4 linked regions of the Homo sapiens genome follow. The protein of the gene in region 3 purifies or fractionates together with the protein of the main gene of each other region. This does not show direct contact. Each region holds a gene or a part of one and is shown on either strand. Other genes may lie near its edges.

Evidence for each region.
Region 1: the proteins of HSD17B6 (region 3) and ATP2B3 purify together in Homo sapiens (affinity purification with mass spectrometry; 3 studies listed by BioGRID and IntAct, with this or other methods). This does not show direct contact.
Region 2: the proteins of HSD17B6 (region 3) and ATP2B1 purify together in Homo sapiens (affinity purification with mass spectrometry; 3 studies listed by BioGRID and IntAct, with this or other methods). This does not show direct contact.
Region 4: the proteins of HSD17B6 (region 3) and ATP12A purify together in Homo sapiens (affinity purification with mass spectrometry; 3 studies listed by BioGRID and IntAct, with this or other methods). This does not show direct contact.

Annotation. Positions count from the first base shown.
Region 1 is NC_000023.11:153,513,626-153,520,645, reverse strand, and holds the start of ATP2B3 (plasma membrane calcium-transporting ATPase 3), read right to left. Parts: upstream 3,005-7,020; 5' UTR 2,771-3,004; intron 2,215-2,770; 5' UTR 2,095-2,214; intron 1-2,094. UniProt on the Homo sapiens protein: ATP-driven Ca(2+) ion pump involved in the maintenance of basal intracellular Ca(2+) levels at the presynaptic terminals. Uses ATP as an energy source to transport cytosolic Ca(2+) ions across the plasma membrane to the extracellular compartment.
Region 2 is NC_000012.12:89,705,829-89,712,840, forward strand, and holds the start of ATP2B1 (plasma membrane calcium-transporting ATPase 1), read right to left. Parts: upstream 3,011-7,012; 5' UTR 2,768-3,010; exon of another isoform or gene 2,566-2,767; intron 2,320-2,565; exon of another isoform or gene 1,940-2,319; intron 1-1,939. UniProt on the Homo sapiens protein: Catalyzes the hydrolysis of ATP coupled with the transport of calcium from the cytoplasm to the extracellular space thereby maintaining intracellular calcium homeostasis.
Region 3 is NC_000012.12:56,758,546-56,766,328, reverse strand, and holds the start of HSD17B6 (17-beta-hydroxysteroid dehydrogenase type 6 precursor), read right to left. Parts: upstream 3,006-7,783; 5' UTR 2,915-3,005; exon of another isoform or gene 2,907-2,914; intron 1-2,906. UniProt on the Homo sapiens protein: NAD-dependent oxidoreductase with broad substrate specificity that shows both oxidative and reductive activity (in vitro). Has 17-beta-hydroxysteroid dehydrogenase activity towards various steroids (in vitro).
Region 4 is NC_000013.11:24,704,401-24,711,421, reverse strand, and holds part of ATP12A (potassium-transporting ATPase alpha chain 2), read right to left. Parts: intron 5,110-7,021; coding exon 4,959-5,109; intron 4,400-4,958; coding exon 4,231-4,399; intron 4,144-4,230; coding exon 3,989-4,143; intron 2,059-3,988; coding exon 1,935-2,058; intron 1,740-1,934; coding exon 1,594-1,739; intron 963-1,593; coding exon 829-962; intron 631-828; coding exon 529-630; intron 105-528; coding exon 13-104; intron 1-12. UniProt on the Homo sapiens protein: The catalytic subunit of a H(+)/K(+) ATPase and/or Na(+)/K(+) ATPase pump which transports K(+) ions in exchange for Na(+) and/or H(+) ions across the apical membrane of epithelial cells.

The sequences.
Region 1 (7,020 bases), on a different chromosome or scaffold from region 3:
GCAATGCAAAATGGGGATAACAGCACTTGCAATCATTTGTTGTTGTTTCAATTAAGTGGGCAAGGAAATGTCTGTGCAGCACTCAGTGTCTGACATAAAGTGACTGCCATTATAACTATTATCATTGTTGACATTACTTGATGTGCTACTGACCACTGATGGAGACAGTGGCCATTGGTGAAATACACAAGCCATCAGTTTAAAATCAGAGGGGAGTTCATATGTGCTGATGACTTGCTCTGTGAGGTGGGGGAGGAGGTGAAAAGGCCAGAAGAAGCTCTGCCTGGCTCTGCTGGCTGCAAGAGGCCCAGAGGGTACTCAGCTCTCAGAAGCCCCTGGGGCTCTGGGGCGCCCTCATCCTGTCTACCGGGCAGGCAAGGCGCCCCTTTCCACAAGACATTCTCAGAGGGTCCTCCACGGCTGACCCCGGCACTCCGTGGCTGCATCCCTGGGCTGGGAGCAGACGTTCTGGGATGGAGAGCACTCACTGACTCACAGGCTTGGCTTCTCCTGCTAGTGAATGATTCAACCTCTGAAGCTCCAGCTCCCCCAGGCCCACCCCCACCCTCCCTGGATCTGGAATGGAGAAGGGACTTGGCCAAGGTCACAAAGACCATCAGGTAAGGGGCTGCTGTCACTGAAGCCCCAGGCACCCTCACGAGCCTCCTCTGGCCCCTTCCTTGCCCCTCGGGGGCCGATTGGGGCATCTCCATCACCTGGCATTGTGGCTGTCCCCTGGCATGCTCTTTGCCTTAGGGGCTTCCTTCCTCAGGGACCGGCTCTCCTTCTGGCCCTGTGCAAGGCCCCCTCCCACGCCCGCCCCACTTCCATCTGCCCGTTACCCCCTGCTGTGTGAGAGCATGCCTACTCCTGCACTCAAACCACCTGGCCGTGCAGGGCACGGCCCAGGTGGAGCTGATGGAGACTGGCTGTGTCCTTGGCTGTCCCCCGCCTCGGGGCCTGCAGCAGTGACAATCAATGGCCGGGGACCACAAGTTCCCAGCCCGTTCCGATGGCGCAGACTTGAGGGGCTGACCTCACCCTGGGACCCTCTGCTGGGTCTCAGCTGTGTCCCACAGGGGCCCAGGCATCCCCAGCCCTCTCCTCGGCATCCCAGTGCCCCTTTAATGAGCCACATGGCTTCGGTTTCCTCATCTGTGAAAAGTGGCGGCGGGGGGTGGGGGTTGGGGATGAAAACAGCCATTCACTCGTGTGGTTGAGGTGAGACTCAGATGGAGCTCAGGAAGTGGGGCTGGTCTTTGATTATTACGATAACCTCTCCCCGCCTCCCTGCCCCACCAGGTTCATAGGAATGTCCCTAGCCATCTGCTCATGAAGGAAGGGGCCTCAATTCAGGGCTGAATCCCTTCTCCTCTTGGGGGCCTCAATGATCCCATCTGAAAAATGGGGACAAAAATCCAGGCCTTGCCTCTCCTGTTCAGTGAGTCTGCAGATTCAGTGAGGTCAAGGTCATGAATATGCCATGCAGAAACCAGGTGCCCACTCTGTGCCAGGCCTGTGCAAATGAAGAGCCAGTCCTTGCCTTAAGATGGTCACTGACTAGTGAGGGGCAATGGCAGGGGGTGAGGGCACAGATCCTAGTGGGCAAAGGAGGGGAGGAGGTGCAGGGGGTGCCTGCCAGACTGGTGCCCAAGTCAGCCAGGGGAAGTCGGCTGACGTTTAGGGTGCCAGTGGAATTCAGGATGGGGGCCAGTTGGGGACAGGCTGGACTTGATCCTTTAGCAGGCAGGGACTCCTTTGAGGTCGGAGGCCCTGGGCTTCATCTTTGAAAGTTATATGACCTCGCCAGGAAATGGCAAGCATCTCGTTGAGGAATTCTGGTCCCTTCCCTGCCCCTTGAGTGAGCGAAGGAGCATTTCCACAGTCTCTCCTAAACCCTCATGGAGCCCTCACCGCGGGCTCTCCAAGACTCCCTCCAGTCCTGACCTGCCCCGGCGCCATGCCCCTGCCCTGCCTCCCACCCCTCCTCAGCCGGCTGGCTGAGCCACCAACCCCCAGAAGGGCCAGCAGAAGGAAGGACACCAGGTCACAGAGAGAGAAGCCCATCGTCTCAGGCTCTGGGAGATGCCGCACCTGCCATTCCAAATTCCAGAATCTTAAAGCCAGAGCTTTCACCCGTGAGAAAACGCAGGCGGCCACAGGAAAAGCTGGCTGGCCAAGGTCACACAGGCGAGGAGGGGGAGACAGCCGTTCCTGGAGGGATGGAGAAGTTACCTAAGTGCGGCCCCGGGCGGCTTCTCGTGGGCACTGCCCATGACCGCGGTGGGGTCTGCTGGGCAGCCGCGTGGGCGTGCGGGGAACGGTGCGGGAAGGCGAGAGGGGAAGGATGATACAGTGTGAGGGCGCGGGGGGGAGGGGGTGCCCGAGGCTCCGGGAAGGTGCGTGCGCACTGGCGGGCTCCCGGCCCAGATCCCGCGCCCCCGGCTGCGCCCACCCTGAGCCCCGGCCCGCAGCCCCCAAGGGCCTTGTTCCTCAGACACGGATGCGCGTGCGCGCGCGATGCGGGGCGCAGGGTGCAGGGTGCGGGGCGCTGCCCGCCGGCCTGGGGCCCCGGGGTGACGCGCGGCCGCAGTGCCGCAAGGACACGCAGGCCCGGCGCGGGGCTCAGGTGCCTCGGGCGGGGACCCGTGTCCCCCTACCTGCCGCCGCACCACCTGCCGGGTCATCCTCCCATCCCCACCCGCGCCTTGTGCCCGCGCCGCGCCCGCGCCCACCCCGGCGGCGCCCGCGCGCCCAGAGCACCACTTACCCGGGCATGGGCACGGCCGCCGCCGCGGCCTCGGCTCCGGCGGGCGCTGTCGCTGCGGGCGGGCGTCAGGCGGGCAACGATCCGCTCCAAGGATGGAAAGGCCTGGGCACGGGGCGGCCTGGCCGGCGGCGCGGGACGCGACCCTCTGCGGCGGGCGAGGGCTGCGGCCGAGTGCTCCCCACGCTCTGCACCGGCGGCGGGCGACGCGGCGCGCTCGGCTCCAACCGCAGCTCTGAGCGCGGAGGGAGGGAGGGGGGAGGGGAGGGAGCTGGGTGAGGAGGAGGGAGGGAGGAGGGAGCGGGCGCGGGGGGCGGTGCGCGGCGCAGGGGCCTCGGGGCTCAGGAGCTACGCGCCCGGTGCGCGCCCTTCTGTCCCCAGGACGCGCGAGGGTGCCCGCCCTTCCTGGCCTGGCATTGCCCCCAAAGGGCACTGGCCGAGTGGGGGTGGGTGGGGATGGAAACTGGGGGACCATGGCACCTGTGAGTGCAGAGAGAGCACCCTGAGCTTGCGACTGAGGCTGCCACTACCTCTCCAGACCCTGCCCTCTAGGTGCGTCTCCCCAACAGTAAAATGGGGCACAGAGCCGGGTGGCTGATGTGTAGCGTGGGGTCCTTGGGTCTTGCCTCAGTGGACTCCAAGGCATTGGTGGTCTCCTGCAAACTCCATTACCTGTTGAGAGTACGGGCGTCCAAATGCGTCTTCCCAGAGGAAGCGGCGCTTACCGGAGATCCTCACCGTCGGTTATCACGGGAACACCACCGTTAGGCAGAACACAGAGACTGCACACAGGTGGGCACCAGAGACAGACACGCAGGGGCACATACATCCCCGGTGTGAGTGGAGACAGACACACAGACAAACCCCAGTGCAGACACCTGTCCACACCCACAAGCACGCGTTCCCACCTACCTGGAAAGAGACCCCCGTGCCTGCCGGTGGACCCCCAGGCTTCCCAGCTCCAGGGGCTGTGGAGGCCTCTGACCCCAGGGCCGGCCTTTGCGAGCATTCTGAGCAGCGAGCAGAGAATGCTCGCTGGGGCACAGGTAGAGGCTCTGGGCGGGAGCCTGAGGCAGGTGCAAGAGGCCTGGACGCAGCCTCAAATTCTTTCTTGCCTTGGACAAAGAGGGCCCTGGACATGCTGTGTGCCAGACCAGAGCTGAATACTGGGGACACAGCAGGGACCACAAAGCAGGGAGTGGCCGTCGGATGGCAAATGTGCTCACGCCGCTGGGGTCGGAGCTATGGAACCCCATTGATGGGGAGCCATGAAAGAGGCTGCTGGCGGCTCAGGGAAGGCCTCTTTGAGGAGGCACCACTGTGCTAGGGACCAAAAGGACAGAAAGCTTCTGCTGCCCCTGAGACCAGGGAACCGTCACAACCCCCACAGACTGCCCCTCCCTTCCACAGGAAGCAGCTGGTGCCGTGGAAAGCTGAGGTTCGCGCACGCACGCACACACACACTCATACACCTGGTCATGTGTGCGCTCACACATGCTTACTCACACCCACTCACATGCACGCACACATACTCACACCTGCTCATATGCATGAACTCATGCTCACTCACCTACTTACACAAACACACACTCACACACTCATGCACACACTCACAATCTCACGCAGACACATCCTCACAGTCATATGTGCTCACTCACCCTCACCCACACAAGCTCGGTGGCCCACACAGTTACACAATGGTTCACACATATTTACATGCTCTCACACCTACACAACTCACACACTTACCCAGTGAGCACACACATGGGCACATACATACACACACACTCACACACAGTTACTCACAGTCACACTCACACACACACTCCCCACTCACACTCTCACACATATTCATTTGCACACTCCCGCAGTCCCCTTCCACTCCAACTCTGAGGCAGCTTTTCCTGAGCCTGGGGCGTGTGCTCCTCCGGGCCCAGAGCCGCCATGGGGACACCCCCTTCTCACACACACACAGCCTGTGACTTCCCATGGCCCCGAATGGGAAAAATCAAGACTGAAGCAAGCCCCAATGATGCTGGAAACTTATCATGAGCTAAGTTCTGGCCATTTCGCCAGAGCCCTGCCATCTTGGAGTCGTTCCTCTTACTAGCCCACATTCCAGATGGGGAAGTGGAGGCCCAGAGGGCACTGGATCCCACCCGGAGCAGGTTGTAAGCTGGACTTTGGCCCCTGGCCGGGAGGCCAGCTGCCCCCATGCCCTCAGGCACCACAGGAGGGCAGAGGAGCTCCTTTCCCCAGCGCATTCAGGCCACGTTCCTTCTTGGCCTCCCACACTGTGGCAGGCTCCCTGGGGTCATGTCCTTCCATCCCAGGCCCAAGGGCCCTGCTCTGGAGTGAGCAAAGGCAGAAGCAGGCTGCTGAGCTGGCCTCCTTTCGTGGCCCCCAGCAGGAGCATCCCTTGGGCAAGGGTTGGGTCCCGGCTGAAGACAAGCACCTCTTAGCAGACATGTGTGGGCAGCTCTGGGAGGGCAGGTGTGGGGCTGGGGAGACCCACACTTAAAGGCTTAGGAGTGGCTGTGAGAGCTGACAAGCAAAGAGAAGAGTCCCTTTGGGCTGCGTCACTGTCTTCCCTCGGGGACCAGGGAACATGCTGAGGGATGGAGGCTGTTCATTTAACTGATGGCTGCTATCCACATGGGGGAATCTCCCTGAGCTTGGAGCAGCTGCTGCCTGGGTTGCGTGTTTATGCATCTCCCCTCCCTATTCTCTGACCCCAGACTCTGCACAGGCCCTGTCTGGCCAGGGGGAAGAAGCAAGTTCAGGGGAGAAAATCTGAGGCAGGGGCTACCTGCCCCACCACTTTGCCTCCTCCCCCGGGCCCCCAGGGCACTGCTCATGGCTAATCCAGCCAAGAGTTGGCCATGGTGCCTACCTTTGTGATGAGTCCCACTGAGGCCAAGGTCAGATGGCCAAGGAACAAAGTGTCATGGAAGTCCCTAGTCCTCAGCAAATTGTGGCCCCTAAACAGCTAATGGCCAGGTAAGGGGATGGTCCTTTCTCCTTGGTTTGTGTCTGTTGGTTCCCAGCCCAGAGCCCTGAGGCTGAGAGGGAGGGCCCAGGCCTGGGAATGAGGACACCTGAGTGCCAGGCAAATGCTGCCAGTGTCACTGGTGATCCTTGCTCACCGGCCAGCCCCTCTTGGGTCCTCCATCAGTAAAGAGGTGGGAGCTTTGCTAGAAAGTTCTCCCATACACCAAGTCCTGTCCTCTGCACTGGGAGTACTTAGGGAGCCAAACCCAGGGAGGCCCAGACCACTCTGCTTCCCAGCTCCCTCCCAGGTCCCAAGCCAGCCTGTCCCACCATGCCCTGGACCTGCCTCCTTAGGGCACGCCAGGCCTCCGTCCCCACCCCACTCTCCCACATTGCCGACGACTGCCTGGGAAACAAAAGCCACAGAGAGCACCCTGCTCTCAGCGGCTGCCCACCGCCCCACCTGGCCGCCTCATCCCCACTCTCACCCCTCTCTCTCTCCACCTGCCTCCAGCCCCTTCAGTCCCGCTCCCCTCCCACAACTGCTTTCTCTCCTGGCTCCTTGGCCCCTACCCAGTCACCAGGTCCGTCCTCTCCCAGGCCTCTGGGCCATGCCCCCTCCTTGCCCAGGTTCCCTCCTGCCACTGTTGGGACAGCAGCTCCTTGGCCAGCTCTGAAGTGAGGACCCCTTTGGCTGGGCCTGGGGCCCCCATCCCGTCTTCTCATGCCCACTGTCTCCCTGGCTGAGGTCCCAGCCCCTTCCCCAAGGCCTCAGGGGCAAAGCCCGTGTCCACTTGCAGCCCAGGGGCAGGCTAAAAATGTCCCCACCGATGTGTCCATGTCCCAACCCCCGGAACCGGAATGCAGCCTTATTTGGAAATAGGGTCTTTGCAGATGCCATCAAGTGAAGAATCTTGAGATGTGGGTTATCCTGGGTTATCCCCCCCCGCCACACACACACATGCTCACACTCACATCCATGCACGGAGACACACACACACAGAAACACACACACACGCTCACACTCTCATCCATGCACAGACACACACACACAGAAACACACACACACGCTCACACTCACATCCATGCACAGAGACACACACATGCTCACACTCACATCCATGCACAGAGACACACACACACAGAAACACACACACGCTCACACATCCATGCACACACACACATGCTCACACTCACATCCATGCACGGAGACACACACACACAGAAACACACACACGCTCACACTCACATCCATGCACAGA
Region 2 (7,012 bases), about 33 Mb from region 3:
AAGACTTATCTACAGCTCAATAGCCAATGCTTTACATTGTCTATAGAGAAATTGCAAGTGTTGAATGAAACCTTAAATGCAGATAGAAGGGCAGTAATATTTTGCGGTTTGTAAGTAAGACTATATGTAATAATATCCACATCTTAATTCATTACTTGGGAGCTAAATCCCTTTTCTCATGTTACATCAAAAAAGGAGGCTGTGCCTAAAGAGACAGTGTTCCTTATACTTATGATTTGGGAAGGAAGGGAAGGGAAAGAAATCTCAACTGTCACTACAGTAACTCTTTTCTAAGTATTAAAATCTCCATTTATTTTTACATGAGATGCACCTGAGAGGAGCCATGTATACAAACCACTTTTTCTAACATGGTCTTTATTAAACTTTGAATATAAGTACACCTGCTCGAAGTGTTCATCTATATTATTTAAGAACAAGCAACTGTAAAACAGTAAAATCACAAAAGGTAAGTTGTTGGAAGACAACAAAAAAGAATTACTATATCTGATCCTGCGTGTTTATTTTAGAATCTGTTAATAGGCCTACAGCTAAAAAAAAAAAAAAAATTGTAAAGCCACTGTCATACTGGTAGGTACCTTTATTTGGTGGCAATGGCTAGTTCAAACCACCTATTAAAAGCAGCTATTACTTTCCTTCTTTTACCAAGAATATCCAGACCATCAATATTATTATAAACACAAATCAAAACTAGTTTCTCATCTCATCTCAGAATGCTAAAATCCCAAGCTTCAATAAAAAAAAGATTTCCCATACAATTGCAGAAATTTCTCTCAAAAGAGAAATGAGAGAATACAGAAAAATGAAGACAATTCCCCCTTACACGTCAAAATGGGGATGCCAATAATGACAGCTGCGATAAAAATCAAGAAGGCGTACCCCGAATTTTCACCATTTTAATAAAAGAAAATCACGAAATTTTAAATTAAAGGTGGCGCTCTGTCCTCAACTCACCCGAATGTGACTCACTTTTGCAGACTATATGGTAGGAAATTAACAGTTACTTTTCAAAGATCTTTGCAGTTACACCCAAGCCAAAATCAGGACAGAGATCCACCCTTAATTACAGCAATTTAGCTGTCTTATCTAAAGCAAGGTAAAAACTAAAACGTCCTCCTGAAATCATAGCTAAATAAGCCCATTTCATATACTAGCTATCAAAGGTTCCCAATTAAAAAAAAAATGTTTCTATTTACTTCAAATTTGAACTCACCAGGAGGATAAAGAAAAAGAGAGGGGAGGAGGAGGACCCAAATGAAACGCACAAGTACAAAAAGCAGATTCTCCTCCAATCCCTCTTAATTCCCCCAATCCACCCCTGCCACACACAAGGACAGGGAGTCTCGGGAAGGCTGGCATCGGGGCAAGTGGTGAAGGCCCTCCATTCACTCACGTGGGCCACCATCCAAAGGGTTACACACCCTCTGCCAGATGAGAGCCTCATACAAACCAGGCCCTTACAAGTACTTCTTATTATAAAATACACCCACGCTGAACAAAAGCCTTATTTTAAAATAAGACTGTCCTCAGGTGGGGGAGGTTAAACACAACAAAGGCTTCCATGTTGACAGGCAGACAAGTTCAGATATATGCATATACCTACACACGTATGAAAAAAATCTATGTAGCTAATTTATCACGAACAGCAATCGATACCAACAGAAGCCATTAGATTATTAATAAACCAAGAAAAGTAGCGGGCACAGAAGCGAAAGGTGGCTGTCTGCAGCGCTCTAACCCAAAGAAAAGGTAAATATCAGCCTGTCGAGGAGGGTCGAGCCCTCCAAGTACCTGCAGACCCCTTTAACCCACCCGGACGCCCTGCCCTCCCCTCCGAGCCAAGCAGCGCACAGGGTGCGAGCACTCCCAGCGCTGCGAGTCCCGCAGAAAACTGGTGAATGAAATGCGCACAGAGACCAACCTGGCTGGTGACCGCGGCGCAGAACCAGGGGTCGCTAACCAGCTTAGCCACAGGATTCTCCCGCAGGATGGGATAAAGAGAGCACAGCCCCCACCCCACACCCCTGCCACTGGAACGCGGTCCTCCTACAGACTCCTTCCTCAAAAAGGGAGGTGGGGGCGCAGGCTTTTTTCTCTTAAACTAAGTGAATAAACACGAATCGGAAACAACTGTGAACATCCTGGGGGGCCAGACGGAAGGCGTGAGGAGAAAGACCAGGCGGCTCTCCAACTCCCGAGGAATCACCGTCCTGACACGCCAACAATCAACCACCAGGGCCAGGGGCCGACCAGGGGCCCCCGCTCCCCTCCCGCAGTGCGTCTGGGGGGCCGAGGCCAAGGATTAGAGGGGTGACCCTCCCGGGGCGCGGGGAGAGGGAGTGCCGGGCACGGTGCCCTCAAGGTCACCACGCGCCGTGGCGGGGGCGACCGGTGGCGGGATGGGCTGTGGCGCGGCCGAGGCGGCTTCGTGAAGCCGAAGACCTGCGGGTGTAGACCAGAAGCCCCAACAAGCCCCATCCCTCGGGCCCGGAGCAGCGACTCCCAGACTGACCCGGCGCTGAGGTGCACGGCGAGAAGCCCGCTCACCTTCACAATCTCCCGGCAAGAGGCAACCTGCGAGGGGCCCCGACCGCCCCCGTCAGCTTCTCCCGAATCCGGCGCAACCCGCTGCGCACCCAGCTATCAGGATCCCCGCCGCGACGCCCGACCTCCGTGCTCCGCCTGGCCTCCCCCGCAGGTGACCTGCCCCGCCGCCCCCGGCCGCGGGCGGGCGGCGGCCGCCACTCACCTCGCCCGGCAGTGGGAACCATTTTCCGAGGGGGAAGGAAAGGCAGGCTGCGGGAGGGTCGCGGGGCGTTAAGGGGCAGCGGGAAACGCAGAGGATGGGGGCTCCGTCCTCAGCGCGTCCGCAGCCGGCTCGCAGGGCTCGGGGCGCCACGCGGAGGTGCAGCTGCACCTCGGGGATGGGGCGGCCAAGGAGCCGAGAGGCTCGGCGTCCACCAGCCGGGGCTCCCTACTCACGCTGCACTGCGAGGAGGCGGCGGCGGCAGCGAAGGAGGAGGAGGCGGCGCCCGGCCGTCCCCGCCCAGAGCCCGGCAGCCACCGAGTGGCCGCCCGCGTCCCCGCAGGACCCGCCTCCTCGGCTCCGCAGAGCGGCACACAGGGCGCGCCGCGCTCGCTCGGCACGGGCAGCTCAGCCGGCCTCACGCCGCCGTCCGCAACAGCAGCCGCGGGCGGGGTGCAGCCACCTCCGTGAGCGCCGCAGCCCGCCCCACTCGGGGCGGGGCCCGCGGGCACCGGAGAGCGGACGGCCGAGCACGAGGGGGCTGCGCGCAGCTCCGGGCAGGGACCCCGTCTGCACCGGGTGGCCTGCAAGATTGCCGGGGTAGGCAGGGGGAGGAGAACGCTCACCCGTTCCGGTCTGGCGCTCCCTTTTCTCCACACCCACACGCCTCCCGCTCCACGCTGGCGGCGCAGCTGCTCCCGCTGCCACAGCCGCCACCGCCGCCGAAGCTCGCGCCGCCGCCGCTGCCGCCTTGGCTGAGCGCGGTCACGTGACGCGATCCGCGGGGAGCCTGGGGGCGGGCGAGTGCGCGCGCGCGCGCGCGGAGGAACCGCGGCTCGGACCGGGACTGGGAGCTGAGCGGCACTGGGAGGGCGTTTAAGGGGAGGACCCGGCGAGCGCGCCCTCGGCTGGCGAGCGCGCGCCTGGCGATTAGAACTTGCCGCGCGGTCGGGAAAGGGTGGCCGGAGTGAGGGGCGGAGGTGGGGACTTGCGCCTCCGCACGCCCCTCCCTTTCTTCCTTCCCCTGAGCGCCTTGGCTTGCCGCTGCCCCCGCCCCCTCCAGCGCGCCCCTTCCCTCCTGCCGCAGCCTGCGATTGGCTGAGAGGCTCTGACGTCCGTGTTTCCATGACGTGTTGGTGCAGGAGGGAGCGGCGGGGGAGGAGGGGGTGGCCAGGCGCGCGGGGAGGTGACTCCGTCAGTCACAGCTGCTGTTTCGGCGCGGGGCCGGGCCGCTGCCGCGACGTGTGGAGGCAGGAGAGCGATGATTGCCGCAGGAGAAGTGCGGGCGCCCTTCACCTGGGGCCCCTCCCGAACCGCCCCCGGGCCCATGCCCCTCCAGGGCCCAGGAGCGAGCCAGCGGGAGGGCGAGGGCGAGCGCTCCTGGCGAGGACAGATTAAGGCGAACCCCCAGTCAGCGGACATTTGAGCGGCTCCTCGCCGCGTCTCTGCCCCCACTCCAAACCGGACTCGACGCCTGTCCCGGGCCGTGACGCACGCACCGGAGGAAAAAGTGCTTCTCGGCTCGCTCCCTCTTTGGGGAAGAGAGCTCACTCCCCATGCGGGCGCGGGACACTCCATCTCTGTTCCTGCCGGTCGGGTCCGCAAACACCGGGGATCCCAGCTGCGGCGCCCAAAGGGTTAACGCAGGCGTTCGGCCAGTGCAAACCGGCCTCGCAGGATCCGCGCTTAAAATCCGGGTGTTTTCATTTTGGGTTTGTTTCTTCTACTATGCCAAGCTGGTGGCTCTCTTTTAATTCTCTTGTAACATCTCAACCCTGCACCCATCTTTCCTGAGGGGAAAAGGAAACGGGATAACTTGCGGTATTTCGATGCTCAAAGGTAACCGGCGGCTCTGCTCCAACCTTCAAGAGATTTTGCAAGTTGAAAAAAAAAAAAAAACCATCCTTCGTAACATCTACTTAAAAAAAAAAAAGCAAGTTTTCCTTCTTGTACACGCATATACACAGTAAAGATGTGTATCTTACCTAAGATACCGCGCTTCATCTTCATCTAATCTTTATTTGAACTCACCGTCGCCACTGGCCCAGAGACCTTGTCAGTGTTATTTTCAGTATCAGTTAATCAGAACAAAAAGATAAGTTCTGCAATCTTCTTTCTCTTAATTCCAGAACTGGAAAATTAATATTTATATAGCCTCCTCAAAAGCATACAGGCAATAGGAAGTATGGTATTATGTTCACGATCTGATGATAGCATTTGTTTTAAAATATTTTAAAAGATTAGACACAAAATGTGTAAAAGACGTTTAAAAGTGAATAAATATAAATCAATGCTGTTGCAAATAATTTTTTTATCAGTTTATGTATCTCACTAGGCTTGACATTACCAGCCTTCTGAGCTGTGCCCTTGATGTGTAAGATAAACGAACATTGAACAGAATGATAGCATTTTTCCTCTCTTCAGTCACTGATGGAGAATTGGTTAATGTGGTACAATAAATAGCCCTTCCTGACACTATTTCAAATCTTTTTAACAGAAGAATAACCTAAATTTCACCTAATAAATTTCAATATTATTTCCCCCTAAAATATCTTTCAAAACGACTCAGAGACATTTAAGAATCACTGGCTTTTTTCCAACTTTTCCTCCAAGGAAGTTACAATACAATGTTGAATTATGTATTCTACTTTAATCAAGAATTTGACATTAAAGTAATATGTGAATCATTGCTATAGTACACTAGCAAAATGGGTAATAAACTAGAATCTGTTCACTTTGTGGGTTTGTTCCAGTTCCAGATTATAAAATGAATGCTCTTAAAGTGTTGTGGTCATGAAACAATTATTGAGCATCTTTATTTAAGAACACGATTCAATTAAGTTTTCATTTATATCGATAAATCTATAAATGAAACATACGGAATATATATATTCATGTATATCCATAAATGAAAACGTGTGTGTGTGTGTATCCCGGAACATATTTGTATGCATTTTAATGAAATGTGAGTCATATGCAATGACAAACTTTTACTGTCATAGTCAAGAAAATTGTACTGTAGTTTGGTTTTTATATTTTTATTCTTCAAATAGGAAATAAAGGGTGAAAGCAATATAGAAATAACTGTTCACATTACATTAAGAAATTCAATTTTTTTCTCCCACAGGCTTAGTACTAAAGCATCCCTCACACATATTTTTCAATGTAAAAATCAAGAAAATATTGCATTGCTTACTGTTTCCTTGAAAAAAAATTGAACTATCTGAAATCAAAGATGCCACTGTATGTAACAGTATTCTCTTAATCTTAGACCTAACTTATCCCATGTGTTTAACTGATCTAGAGATGTATCTTTGCATAAGGAACAATATAATAATACAATTTACTGGGGAAATAATATTTTAAAGTTCTTTTAATATGCATTTTAGCTACAATGCAAAACTTATAAAAGTATTTAAATCCAGTCAGGTGCGGTGGCTCACGTCTGTAATCCCAGCACTTCGGGAGACTGAGGCGGGCAGATCACGAGGTCCGGAGATTGAGACCATCCTGGCCAACATGGTGAAACCCCGTCTCTACTAAAAATACAAAAATTAGCTGGGCGTGGTGGCTCATGCCTGTAATCCCAGCTACTCAGGAGGCTGAGGCAGGAGAATCGCTTGAACCAGGGAGTCCAAGGTTGCAGGGAGCCGAGATCGCACCACTGCACTCCAGCCTGGCGACAGAGTGAGTCTCAGTCTCAAAAACAAAACGAAACAAAACAAAACAAAAAAGTATTTAAACCCCATGACAAGTTACCATATGAGATGTTAACATTGAAGAGTGGCTGCAGATTCAAAATAATATATTTGGTATTTTTAAGGTATGCTCTTTTTCATAGAGTAAATCTAAACAACTGAGATATTTGCTGAAAAGTTGATCGATTCAAGAGATATAACACATGAAGACAGTTTTCTAAAATCCTCAATGTAATTAAGTGTAAAGAGAAACAAAGAACTTTATTCTGTCACATGCATCTAGCAATAGGACAAAATAAAGACATATCAACTGCAGTGTATTTTAAAAAACATATTCTTTCCCCGTAAACACATTTTACATATGTGAATGCATCAGTCCTGATCATTACAGAATCCTAAAGAGGACTGATAAGTACAGGGAGGCAGAGAAGGAGGATATTAAATTCTTAATTTAAAATAGCTGTATATGTTCTCAAATTTCTATTAACCTGAATCACCAGAGAGAAGTGTCAAGAGAAAGATTACTTAGCTGAAACCCACAGAGAACTGT
Region 3 (7,783 bases):
TCCGACTACCTTTTGTCACACGCGTCCCAGTGAAGAGATCACCAAACAGGCTTTGTGTGAGCAACAAGGCTGTTTATTTCACCTGGGTGCAGGCGGGCTGAGTCCGAAAAGAGAGTCAGCAAAGGGAGATGGGGTGGGGTCATTTTATAGGATTTGGGTGGGTAGCGGAAAATTACATTTAAAGGGGGTTTTTCTCTTGCAGGCAGGGGTGGGGGTCATAAGGTGCTCAGTGGGGGAGCTTCTGAGCCAGGAGAAGGAATTTCACGAAGTTAATCACTCAGTTAATGTGGGGCAGGAACAAATCACAGTGGTGGAATGTCATCAGTTGAGGCTATTTTCACTTCTTTTGTGGATCTTCAGTTGCTTCAGGCCATCTGGATGTATACATGCAGGTCACAGGGGATGTGATGGCTTAGCTTGGGCTCAGAGGCCTGACACCTTTCCTTTTCTTTCTTTCCAAGAACCTCTCTGCATGAGCTTTCCTGCCCCAACCCTGATTTTGTGGATAGTATAGAATCATGAGGCTGGGCACAGTGGCTCACACTTGTAATCCCAATACTTTAGAAGGCTGAGGTAGGCGAATTCCTTGAGGAGTTCGAGACCAGCCTGAGCAACATGGCAAAATCCCATCTCTACAAAAAATACAAAAACTAGGCAGGCATGGTGGGGAGTGCCTGTAGTCCCAGCTACTCTGGAGGCTGACACGGTGGGGGGAGGGGGTGGGAATCACTTTAGCCTGGGAGGTCGAGGTTGCAGTGAGCCATGATTGCACTACCGCACTCTATCCTGGGCAACAGAGCAACACCCTGTTTGGAAAAATTAATAAATAGATAATAAGAAAAAAAAGGATTGGTTTTTTGTGTGTGTGTTTTTGTTTTTGTTGTTGTTTGTTTTGAGACGGAATCTTGCTCTGTCGCCAGGCTGGAGTGCAGTGGCGTGATCTCAGCTCACTGCAACCTCTGCCTCCCAGGTTCCAGCGATCCTCCGGCCTTAGCCTCCTGAGTAGCTGGGACTACAGGCATGCAACACCATGCCCGGCTAATTTTTGTATTTTTTAGTAAAGACAAGGTTTTACCATATTGCCCAGGCTGGTCTCAAACTCCTGACCTCGTGATCCGCCTGCCTCAGCCTCCCAAAGTGCTGGGATTACAGGCGTGAGCCACCGCACCCAGCCTAAAAAAAAATTTTCTTAAATAGAATCATGAGGCCAGGCATGGTGGCTCATGCTTTTAATCCCAGAACTTTGGGATGCGAGGCAGGCAGATCACTTGAGGCCAGGAGTTCAAGACCAGCCTGGCCAACATAGCGAAACCTCGTCTCTACTAAAAATACAAAAATTAGTCAGGTGTGATGGCGGGCGCCTGGAATCCCAGCTACTCAGGAGGCTGAGGCAGGAGAATAGCTTGAACCTGGGAGGCAGAGGCCGCAATGAGCTGAGATCATGCCACTGCACTCCAGCCTGGAAGACAGAGTGAGACTCTCTCTCAAAAGAAAAAAATAAAAAATAGAATCATGAGCATAGACTCTGAGGCCAGATGGCCTGGGTTCAAAATCAGGCTTCGAGATTTACTTGTTCTGCAGCCTTGAGTAAGTGAACTGGCCTCTGTTCCTGTGTGCTCGTGTTCAAAATGGGAAAAAGAAACCTCAGTGATTTATTGAGAGGGTTAAATAAGTTAATGCATGTAAAGCAATACATAATTGTTAGATATTAGTATTATTTTGGGTAGTTGTTGTCTTATTATTGCCATATTGCCTTTCTCCCTGAGCCCTGTCTCTTCCCCTGAGCTTTCATAGAAGGAAACTGTGCCATGGGAATGTGCATTATCTGGTGCATTACACCACCACTTTTCTACAGTATGCATAACTCCACATATTGCAACATCCTTAATCATTTCTATCAGCTCTTTATCACTATTTTGGGCCATGCTCGTGCACCTTAACTTCCTTCTGTCTCAAGCGAGGACCTCTCTCTCTGCAATATAATACATGGCAAAGTAAGAAGTAGCCTTTATTCCCTTCTTTGGTTAAAATCTTCAGACATGGGTTTGTCTATAAACTCCAGTCAGCTTAGTCACTGATCCTAAGAGCAAGTCTGTAAACAGCACATGGCTCCCTGAACTGATCCACCATGACATTCTTTTCTTCCCACTTGGGCATACAGGCTAAGTATTCCTCAAGTCAATAATTGTTTTTTCTTTTCTTTTTGATTTTCTTTTTTTTTTCTTTTTTTCTTTCTTCTTTTTTTTTTTTTTTTTTTTTTGAGACACGGTCTCACTCTGTCATGTAGGCTGGAGTGCAGTGGTGCAATCACAGCTCACTGTAGCCTCGACCTCCTGGGCTCAGGTGATCCTCCCACCTCAGCCTCCCAAGTGGCTGGGACCACAGGTGTGCACCACCACACCTAGCTAATTTTTTGTATTTTTTGTAGAGACAGGGTTTCATCATGTTGCCCAGGCTGGTCCCAAACTCCTGAGTTCAAGGGATCCTCACTCCTCAACCTCTCAGAGTTCTGGGATCTTGGCCCAATCACAGAAGGCCCCTTTCCGCTTACCCAAAGTTTCACAAACTTACCCAACAGCTATCAGCATTAACCATTAAAGAGCTTGTTTCCCCCACTGCCGAGAATCCCGTTTTCAGAGGATACCCAGAGTCCCTATTTGTAAGTATGAAATCACTCCCAACTTGTAACCAGTACTCTCCCAAACTTCATGGGAGTAAAGATCAAAAAAGCAGAGCAAGCAATCGTGACAAAATTTCTTTCACGAATCAAAGTTGAAGGATCTTTTAAGATGATAAAAAATCATAATCAAAACCTGTCTCCAAACAGACCATATCCCATATCCCCTACACACACACACACACACACACACACACACACACACACACACACAACCACCCTTACCCACCTACATACCGGACTTGCTTAGGAAGAGTCCAGTCCTAGAGACTTGAAAGGACTTCTTTGCAGACCAGGCAGCAGTCGGCTTCCTCCTGCCCCAACTGCTGCCCACTCCAACCTCTGCATTGCTCTTATAACACCTCCCTCTTGTGGTAAGAGTCCAGGCTGCTTCACTCCCTCATAGGGTTCTCACCAGTGTCATCCTTGATCAGCTGCAGAATCAGATCTGTTACTACCAAAATGAAAAACAGAAAGAAAGAAAAGAGCTGCCCTGACCAGAGAGTCTTGTATGCTCCTCAGCCCCCATCCTCTAATTTTTTTTTTTTTTTTTTGAGACAGAGTCTCGCTCTGTCACCCAGGCTGGAGTGCAGTGGCATGATCTCGGCTCACTGCAACCTCCACCTCCCGGGTTCAAGCAATTCTCCTGCCTCAGCCTCTGGAGTAGCTGGGGTTACAGGCGCCTGTAAAAATTTTTGTATTTTTAGTAGAGATGGGGTTTTACCAAGTTGGCCAGGCTGGTCTCGAGCTCCTGGCCTCAAGTGATCCACCTGCCTTGACTTCCCAAAGTGCTGGGATTACACATGAGCTGACGCACCCAGCCCTCTATTTAATTACTGAGACAGGGTTTCCCTCTGTCACTCAGGCTGGAGTGCAGTAGCACAATCTGGGCTCACTGCAGCCTCGACCTCCCAGGCTCAAGTGATCCTCCCACCTCAGCCTCCAGAGTAGCTGGGACTAAAGGTGCACGCCACCATGCCCAACTAATTTTGAGTTTTTTTGTTTGTTTGTTTGTTTGTTTGTTTTTTGTAGAGATGGGGTTTCACCAGCTTGCCCACACTGGTCTCGAACTCCTGGGCTCAAACGATCTGCCTGCCTCAGCTTCCTAAAGTTCTAGGATTACAGGCGTGTACCACCGTGCCTGGTCCCATCCTCTAATTTAAACTGGAATATTACAATGCAAATCCCCTGCTGGAATGGGGTCAGAGGGCAGGTTGATTTTAGCAAAGCCCACTTCTTAAGACTGCCAACCTGAGATCAGCTGCTGCAAGCTGGGGCTGGCTCAGTCACCTTTCTGAAAGAACTGCAGCTGTTTCATAGCTTGAGCCCTGGACCTAGGGTTGTGTGTGTGTGTGTGTGTGTGTGTGTGTGTGTGTGTATATATATATATATATATTTTTTTTTTAAGTAACAGCTTTATTGAGGCATAATTCACATATCATACCATTCACTCTTTTGAAGTGTACGATTCAATGGGTTTTAGTATATTCACAAGGTTGTGCAACAATCATCACTATCTAGTTTCAGAATACTTTTATTATCCCAAAAGAACCCCATACTCCTTAGCAGTCACCTCCCATTCTTTCCTCCCACACCCCACTCCTGGCAACCAGTAATCTACTTTCCATGTTTGTGGATTTGCCTATTCTGGACACTTCATATAAATGGAATCACACAATATGTGACCTTTGTGACTGGCTTCTTCTGTTTAGCATAATGTTTTCAAGGTTCATCTATTTATCAGTACTTCATTTTAATGTCTGAATCATATTCCATTGTGTGGCTATTCCACGTTTTGTTTATGCATCCATCAACTGATAAACATTTGGGTTGTTTCTGCTTTTTTGTGTTATTATGAATAATGCTGAAACGAATATTTACATACAGATTTTTTGTGTGGACATGGGCCTTCAATTCTCTTGGATATATGTACCCTAAGAGTGAAATTGCTGGGTCAAATGATAACTCTATTTTTAACATTTTGAGGAATTCCCAAACTGTTTTCCAAAGAGGCTGCACCATTTTACAATCTCACCAGCTTCATATGAGGGTTCCAAATTCTCCACATGCTCACCAACACTTATTATCTTTTTTTTTTTTTTTTTTTTTTTGAGAGGGAGTCTCACTCTGTCACCCAGGCTGGAGGACAGTGGTGCAATCTCACCTTACTGCAACCTCTTCCTCCTGGGTTCAAGTGATTCTCCTGCCTCAGCCTCCTGAGTAGCTGGGATTACAGGTGCATGCCACCACACCCAGCTAATTTTTGTATTTTTAGTAGAGACGAGTTTTCGCCATGTTGACCAGGCTGGTCTCAAACTCCTGACCTCAAGTGATCCACTCACCTCGGCCTCCCAAAGTGCTGGGATTACAGGCATGAGCCACCGTGCCTGGCCATATTATCTTTTTTATTTTAGCCATCCTAGTTGGTATGGATTGATATCTCACTGTGGTTTTGATTTGCATTTCCCTAATGATTAATGATGTTGAGCATCCTTTCATGTGCTTATTGGCTATTTGTTTGTCTTCTCTGGTGAAATGCCTATTCAAATCTTTTGCTCATTTTTTGTCTTATATTAAATGTGACGAGTCACAGTACGACCCCGTAGTAAAATCGTACTTAGGGAGAATCACAACAGTACCTCAAACTCAACACATTCAAAACTAAAATGATGATGATTCACTGCAATCTGGTCCTCCTCATTTTCATGTTATTTCCTATCTGCATATGTATTCAACAAATTTAATAAGTGCTTAATAGATGCCAGGCAACTCCCTTCCATCCAGTTGCCCAAGTCTGAAACCTGGGAATCATCCTAGACCCCTTCCTCATCCCCCATGTCCAATCAATATTAATTCTACCTCCTTAAAGTCATTATGTCCATCCCATCCCTTCCATCTCCACTTTACTGCCTTAGCTCAGGCCATCAGTATTTCTCACCTGGTTTCCGGCAACAGTCTGCTAGGATTGCTCCACCTCTGGTTTCTCTCTACCCTCCTATTTGCCCTCTACAGGGCTCCAGAGTTTATTTATAAAACACAACTCTGAGGCCGGGGGCGGTGGCTCACACCTGTAATCCCAGCACTTTGGAAGGCCGAGGTGGGAAGATCACTTGAGCCTAGGAGTTCGAGACCAGCTTGGCCAATATTGCAAAACCCCGTCTCTACACAAAATACAAAAATTAGCCGGGTGTGGTGGCACATGCCCATAATCCCAGCTACTCGGGAGGCCGAGGTGGGAGGATCACCTGAGCCTGGGAAGGTTGAAGCTGCAGTGAGCCATGATCATGCCACTGCACTCCAGCTTGGATGACAGAGACCCTGTCTCATAAATAAACAAACAAACAAACAAAACACAACTCTGATTATGTTTCTACTCTGCTTAAAACCCTTCAATGAGCCAGGAATGGTAGCTCACATCTGTAATCCCAGCACTTTGGGAGGCCAAGGCAGGTGAATCAGTTGAGGTCAGGAGTTCGAGACCAGCCTGGCCAACATGGCAAAACCCCACCTCTACTACCAATACAAAAAAATTAGCTGGGAATGGTGGCACATAACTGTAATTCCAGCTACTAGGGAGGCTGATGCATGAGAATCGCTTGAACCCAAGGGTCATCGCTTGAGCTGAGATGGCGTCACTGCACTCCAGCCTGGGTGACAGAGTGACACTCTGAAAAAAAAAAAAAAAACCCTTCCATGGCTTCCCATTGTCTTCACACAAATCCAAATTCCTATGAAGGAACAAGGCTTAATGTTGTGCTTTAATGTGAATCTGCCAATCCTTTATTTCAAGCAGTCTGCAAGGAGAAAGCTAGAGCCAAAACATGTATAGCCTTATGGCTAACAAGAGAACCTACACAATATTTATATTGGCAGATTGCTTATCTAAAGTCTGGTAGGTTAATTTACAGTTTAGGTTTTAAATACTCAGTTTCCTATACCAAACGCACCAAATAGATTAAAGAGCAATTGCAACGTCCCAGAACACGTTTTATTGGCTTTGTGATCATCACGTGCTCTGTTAGAGGGAACATTCCTGTGAGATCAATCCAAAACTCTGGCATTTAAACAAATATGATGGAACTCTCTGCTACTTTTCAGTAGTTTATGATAACAAGAGACAGAGCTTATCATATTTAAACTGAGATGTGACTTTGGCCCCATTCTCCTTTTGTTTATTATGCTCCTGTGTCAATAGAACATATTTGAAACTGTCCTTATGAACCTTTGAAAATTAATCAGGAAAGCAGGGAGAGAAAGAAATGAAAACAAACCAAGCTTGCAACACATTCAGCATTAATCATTAGGTCAGCCGGCTCTCTGACCTGCTTTCTCATCGTTGTTTAGGCATATTGTCCTAGAATCACATAGATCAGACAGTATAGTTCCCCTTAACTGCTCTATTATAGATAACAACTTGAACATTATAAAATGTTGTTTCCATTTGAGATATCCTTTCAGGTCCTGCACACCAGTGAAACTAATGAGGTCAGCTGATCTGAAGGACCCCATCGACATCAGCAGTTCTGAAGGATCATACAAGGAGCTGACTCACTGAATGCAGTTTCCACATCCTGACGACTTCATCCCTTTGACCCCAACCACTCAATGACCCCAATTTTCCAGTCCCTCATTCTCCACAATCCCCTTAAAAACCCCAGCCCAGAACTCCTCAGGGAGATGGACTTGAAGATCTCCTCTCATCTCCTTGCTCAGCCGCCCTGCAATCATTAAACTCTTTCTCTGCTGCAAACCCTACTGTCTCAGTGTATTGGTATGTTGCTGTGCAGTGGGCATACAAACCTGTTGGTCCTGTAACATATTTTCTAATCTTCTCTTCTTTATTTTATTAACAAGGAAAATAACTAACATAGGAGTACTCCAAGTTTTCAAGCAACTTACTTACTTCAACAGGATTTTAACTCCCAAGGCTTCTTGTCAAATATTAATAGGATCAATAGTTTATTTTCATTTTAACCAAATAAAGTAGATGATGAATAATTTTTACTTCCACACTCCTTAACTTGGCAGGCAATGCTCTGACCATGGCTTACCTCTTAGCCCCATCTCTCACTATACCCTCCCTTGAAGTCTGGGCTCTGTCCATAT
Region 4 (7,021 bases), on a different chromosome or scaffold from region 3:
TAGGCTACTCACTTCCAGGGTAGAGCCTGATGAAGAGCTTCCGCACCTCATCATACACCCAGATCAGGATGGCGTGCGGCACAGCCACAAACCAGTACTGAGCCCTGGAAGCAAAGGGATGGAAAGTGAACCCTGACTCATCCACAGGGATAGCCCAACCCTGCCCAATGGGAATGGGGCTTCTCGTTCATTTGTCTTGCTTTACTGCAAAGAACGACAAATCCACGAGGTCCCACAAAATAAAGGTGGAAAGCTCCTTGTTTAACCTGCACTGTGACTGCTAGAAGCAATGTCTGCCTTTGAAGCAACCTGTTGGATGAGGATGAAGGCCGGTTGGTGAGGTCTAGAAAACCCATTTCCACTTCTGGAAAATGCAGATCAAAGCTTTGGGCTCACAGAGCATGGGATCAGTTTGACGTCTTTTGAAAGACTTGGGGAAGAACCCTGGGAATCCTCAGGTTTATTTAGGCTGCGACAGCTCAAAGCAGAGGCTGGCTCTTTCCTCCATGCTGTTGAGGGTGAACTCACCTAAGCATGGTGAAACTCAAGGCTGTGACACTTCCGAGGCCATAGGAGAGGATCAGACCAATGATGATCTGTGAGGTGATCCCCACCCAGATGACTTTATTTCTGCAAGACACACAAAAGCAGACAGACTTGGGATTCTTGTGGCTTCATGATCATACACCCAGCAGACCATGCCACCAGAAAAATCAATGCCTCTGGGGTTACAAGTGTGGCCAGAACTCTGTCTTGTGAAAAACAAATCATCATCATCCTTGCACGGCAGGCCCAGGGCTGCCCCAGGAGGCCGGGCACAGGCAGTACCTGAAGAGACCCTGCTGGAAGATGGAATTCCTCCGGGTTTTCCTGATGATCAGATCTGCTATTTGCTGGACTAGGATGCCAACAAAGAAAGCCGTGTAGCCCGTCCATTCTAGGTATTCCCTCTGGTACCTTGTCTGTTAATGGGCAGAGAAGGAAGAGACCTTGAGGCCTAAAGGAAAACTTCTAGGAAATTCCAATGCAGTTCTCTAAAGCTTCATGTTCTTTCCACACCTCACCCGGACTGAGAATGGACCACCTTCTAGTGTTTGGAAAGAAACATTTTTCTTTCTTGAACCAGCTGAGTAGAGAAAAATGTTAATTTTTTAAAAAATTATCATTACTATTATTTCTAACACAGGCAGGGTCTCACTGTGTTGGCCAGGCTGGTCTCAAACTCCTGGGCTCAAGTGATTCTCCCTCCTCAGCCTCCCAAAGTGCTGGGATTATAGGCATTAGCCACTGCACCCGGCCTGAAAGATGTAAATTTATTTGGCCGCACTGTGGGTGTGGCTGGGCTGGTCACTCTTCTATACCAATGGCAAAGCTAAGGTAAAAAAAGGGACCTCTTGTCATCTAGCCCAAGACAGGAGGCTGTGCCATGAGACCTGGCAAAGGCCAAACACGTGTCAGCAAGGGGGCCCTGAGCCCTATTAATTGAAGCTTTCCCAGGCTGTTCAGGGACATGGAGGTTCTATGTAATTCTGCGCAGGGCAATGAGCATGGAGAGAATCAGGTGGACTCTGCAGCAGGGCTCCCGCCACTCACCCATTCCTGCCCATAGCTGTCTTTCAAGTCATTCACGTAGTCCTTCTCCCATTCTACCCGCAGGTTAATGAGAGTGCGGGGCAGAAAGCCCTCTTGTGCATAGACGGTGAAATACACAAGGAAAGCTCCCAGGGCTTGCATGAGGCCTGAAAGAACAAGAGAGATAGGACACAGGTTCTATGATGGCCTCAGGAAACTGCCTCATCCTGTCTACTCTCGGTTCCCCCTCCCTCCCCAACCCAGGCCCCACAGGAAAACCACACTTTCTGGCTGTGCCCCCCACTCCAGTGAATTCTCGGGGCAGGCCCTCGTGTGATGGGGAAGACGCGCCCTCATCGTACCAATGTGCAGGTATGAGTACACAGCGAGCGGCTGGTTCACCAGCCTGTCCTTATTCTTGTGGCGAGGCTTCCTGTTCATGATGTCACTTTCAGCTTTCTCGTACGCCAAGGCAATGGAGGGGATCTAGAGGGGAAGAGGCTGGTGAGGTCTAACCCCAGGATGTTCTGCTCTACCCACAGTAGGGGAGGGGGGCTGGGGTGGGTGGGGCACTGGCTGGATGGGGTGGGGGGCATGGAGCTGGCCCATCCAGGCTATAGGCAGTAGAGGGCGTGTTGTCTGTATGGAAATTTAAGAATAGTGCCTTTAGAAATCAGCTGCTTTTTATCACCCTGTGCTGGCAGTTCTGAAGGATGCTGGTTATAAAACACTCTTCCCCTACAGGGAGAATTTCTTGTGCCGTCCTCTCCCTCCAGGTGGGAGGACCTGCTAAGAGACAGATCATTGCGCCCCACCTCCAGACTTCCCAATTCAGGAGGACTGGGCTGGGGCCAGAGAATTTGCATTCATTTCTCTTTCTCTTTCCTTCTTTCTTTCTTTCTTTCTTTCTTTCTTTCTTTCTTTCTTTCTTTCTTTCTTTCTTTCTTTCCTTTCTTTCTTTCTCTTTCTCTCTCTTTCTCTTTCTCTCTTTCCCTCTCTCTCTTTCTCTCTTTCTTTCTCTCTTTCTCTTTCTTTCTTTCTCTTTTTTAAAAGACAATGGGTGTACAACCTATTTCCATTCCTAGCCCAGTTATCTGGAATAAGATTTTTATTTTATTTGTTCTTAATTTTTATTTTTTAAGAGACTAGGTCTCTCTGTGTTGACCAGGCTGGACTCAAACTCCTGAGCTGAAGTAATCCTCCTGCATTGGCCTCCTGAGTAGCTAGGCTACAGGTGTCCACCAGTGCCCAGAGTGTGCATGTCTAACAAGTTCCCAGGTGATGCCCGCACCAGGCCTGGAGAAGCACTGCAGCAGAGCAAAGCAGGCAAATGTGAAGGGCTTGGAAAATGATCCATCAACTTTGGGGACCTCAATACCCCTCAAAGGGAAAGACATCTCCAGTCTCTCTAGGAATTAGGGATTACCTGGGTGTTGTAGAAAACAAGAGAGGGGAAGGGGGCAATTTGAAGGGGAAGGGGGCACTTCGAAGGGCCAGTTTCCTGCTAAGAATTCAGCTTGCTGTCTGTTGCTTTCCCTGCTTGCCCACGTAAGCCACAGCCACATGGGCAGCTTAGACGGGGCTTTCTTTAAATGGATACTGGAAAAGGGGAAGGTTTAGGTGACATTACTGTAGGGCAAGGCTTTATAAAGTCTTCATAACTGCTACTTCTTACTGTGTTTAGGTAAAGGTCTTCCATGTCAGACTCTCTTACTTAACAAGAGGTGGCTGTGAGATTATCACTTTAGTCACTGGGCCCCCAGTGGTTATTTGGGTGATTAATCTGAGTGACAGCTTCATCTTCCCAAAAGAAAAGGGAAGCCCATAGGCTGAAACTGACCAATGGCATTTCTTTTTTTTTTTTGAGGATGAAGACTCATGTCTTGAAAAGCTTGCTATAGCTCAGGTGCAGTGACTCATGCCTGTAATCCCAGCACTTTGGGAGGCCGAGGCAGGTGGATCACTTGAGGCCAGGAAACCCCATCTCTACTAAAAATACAAAAATTAGCCAGGTGTGGTGGCACAAGCCTGTAGTCCCAACTACTTGGGAGGCTGAGGTGGAAGAATCACTTGAGCCTGGGAGGCGGAGGTTGCAGTGAGGCAAGATAGCACCACTGCACTCTAGCCTAGGTGATGGGAGTGAAACTCTGTCTCAAGAAAAAAAAGCTCACTATAGAGTGTTTTTAATTTCCAAACATTTGGCAGATGCCTCTGGTCCCTTGCTTTGAGGTGTGGCATGTGGACTGGTAGAATGGGCACCACCTGAGAACCTGTGAGAAATGCAGAGCTACAGGCCCCATCACATGGAAGCTGAGAAGCCTTGAGTTAGTCCATCCCCGGCCCTTGAAGGTAGCGACCCTGAACTTGACCTCCCCTGGGGCAGGCATCACAGCCTGTTCCCTTCAGTGTCACTTACAATGTCTGTCCCCAAGTCAATGAACAGAATGGTGATGGTGCCAATGGGCAGGGGGAGCCCGACAATGATGTAGATCAGAAAGGGGCACAGCTCGGCAATGTTCTTGGTCAGGGAATAAGCAATAGTCTTCTTGAGGTTGTCAAAGATCAGGCGACCTAGGCAGAGAGGTTTCTCCTTCAGAACTTACTTCTAGTCCCCCAGACCACCCTGGCCCTTGGGAAGACCCCCTGAGACTCACTCACCTTCCTCCACCCCTGTGACGATGGATGCGAAGTTGTCGTCCAGCAAGACCATGTCGGCTGCATTTTTGGCTGCATCAGAACCTGCTATCCCCATGGCAATCCCAATGTCTGCCTTCTTTAGAGCCGGAGAGTCATTAACTCCATCCCCGGTCACAGCAACAACAGCATCCTATGGCGGGGGACCCAGGGAGAAAGTGGGAGTGAGCAGGCCCAGTGGGTTGCAGGCCTGGCAAGAGCAACAAGACTTCCCTTTCTCTTGAGGTTGCGAGGATGATTATAGCTGAACGGAAAGGCCCATTTAGGGGAAAAGATAAAGATGAGAAATCTTAGAAGCAGGAACAAGGGTCTCCAAACAAGATACGTGCAAATGAGGAAAACCTAATGCGCAGGTGTCTTGTATCTTATGTCTTCACATTTTTTGTTTTAAATCTTTGCATTTTAAATCTCTCTTTACTCACAACTACCACAGTGGCAAATGCTTCACCGGGCTCTCATGACAAAATGCAGAGAGCTGGGGTGAGCCTTTCGGGGAACATGTGGTGGGGGTCTCAAAGGAGGACAGGGGCCAGCCCACCTGAGAGGTTGGAGAGGTCAGGTGATGGGGATGAGCCAAGAACTCTCTCTTGAAGTTTCAAAGGCACCACAGCCTGATGTGAGATCCAGACCTCTGCACTTGCCCATGGACAGTGATGGGCCTGTCAGTCCTCTGGACACTGCTGTCCACCCACCTGCCTCTGACAGCCCTCCACAATGATCAGCTTCTGCTGGGGGGATGTCCGGGCAAAGACAATCTCCTGGTAGTTGGCTAAGATCTCATCCAGCTGTTCTGAGCTCATGTCCTTCAGCTCCATGCCAGTCACCACAGCGGCCTTGGCATCCCTAGAAGGGCCAGAAGAAACTGGGTGAGGCCCAAGGGCAGATCTTAGGTTGAAACACTGTTCCAGGCAGGATGCTGGCTGAAGCCTCTCTGACTTGACCTGGAACCCAGTGTCCTTGATACCTAATGCTCTAGTGAGGTAACAGGAGTCCTGGGAACACTTTAGTCTCCATTTCAAGAGGGCAAACTGAGGCTAAAATATAACACCATTTCTTGGTACCATATAACAATAGGAATAAAAAACCAGGTAGCCTTATCCCTACTAGAACAGGTGAGAGTGGTACTTCCTAGAGCAACGCTTTACTTCAGAAGTAAAAGGAAGTTAAAAAACTGCCCATTCATGGCCAAACGCAGTGGCTCATGCCTGTAATCCCAGCACTGTGGGAGGCTGAGTAGGAGGATCACTTGAGGCCAAGAGTTCAAGACCAGCCTGGGCAACATAGTGAGAGCCCCTGTCTCTACAAAAAATTTTAAAAAATTAGCCAGGTATGGTGGCATGTGCCTGTGGTCCCAGCTACTCAGCAGGCTGAGGCAGGAGGATTGCTTGAGCCTGGGGGGTTGAGGCTGCAGTGAGCCATGATCATGCCACTACACTCAAGCCTGGGTGACAAAGTGAGACCCTGTCTCAAAAACAAAAATAAAAATAAAACCCCCAAACTGCCTGTTCATATGTTTTGGGTCCTAGAATTCTTTTATGGCCAAACAAGGGGTAATAATTACTTGCCGTTGGGTATTTCAGATTTACAGAGTGTCATCTTTGTGCAATGTGCTACGTAGGCAGAAGTTTACTGAAGTCTTTGAGCAGCGCTATTGCCTGCTGACTATAAAAGTAAGGTTCTAGGGCCTATTGATTATGCAGAGCTGCCTGAGCCAGTCCCCTGCTAAAACTCTTCAGGGGCTTTCCACCGTGCTTGGAGCAGACCCCGGAATCCCTAACTTTAGCCAGCGAGCCCAGGTGGGGCCTGCGTTGTCAAGCTTCGCCTCACCTTGGGCTCTCCCTCCTGCCCGCTGGATGCTCTCAGTTCTGACATCCTCCATCCCCTGTACCCTAAGGCCTTCACGGGTCTCGCTCCCTGACCAGGAATGGGCATCTCTCACCTCAGCTTCTCGTGGCTAACACTACATTTCAGCCTTCAAATCTCAGCTTAAACAATGTAGGTACAAACTGCTGCAGGTCTTTTTCTTTACAATTTGCAAGTTTTGAGCTTTCTAGGTCTGTTTTACCTCTTGGTGCTAAATACTGGAATTCTAGCACTTGACTCAAACTACAGGTCTCCTTAACCGCTGGCAAAAAAACAAAACAAAACAAAACAAAAGAAAGTAAGAGAAGAAAGAAGGGGTGTTTCCTTTCCCCTTACACCTGCTAAGATGCAATTTTTATATGGTCATGAAACTAGAGCTGATGAAGTGAATAACTGAAAACATTCACAAAAGCATCCACTTCACTCAGTGTGGTGATTTGTATACAAATGTGTAATCCACTCTTCCCTTTTGTGGCCATGAGCAGAGTGGCAGTGACCAAGAGGAAGTGCAGTCCCTTTGTGACTTTTGACTGAGGCAAGAATCATAAAAGTCATTTCAATGCACCTTCCCACATTCGTAGGAAGATTATGTCTTTCTCTCGTTCCAAAGAGCTGAGACAGAAGCACATTCTGGAGTCTGCTACAAGCACAGTTCCATCCATGCCCATCTGAAAGGATGAGGAAGTTGAGGTTGCACAAAGACACTATACGGGCCAGCAAATTGGCAAAGCAGTCCAGGTTTATAGGAAGAAATGTGCCACCTATACTGAACAGGAGCACAGGAGGAGGCTAAGGGCAGGACCGTCGTGTGCACGTCACCAGCACATGGCCATCACCAGGCTAAAACTAGACAAAGACCACAAAAGATCCTTGAATGGAAGGCCAAACAAAT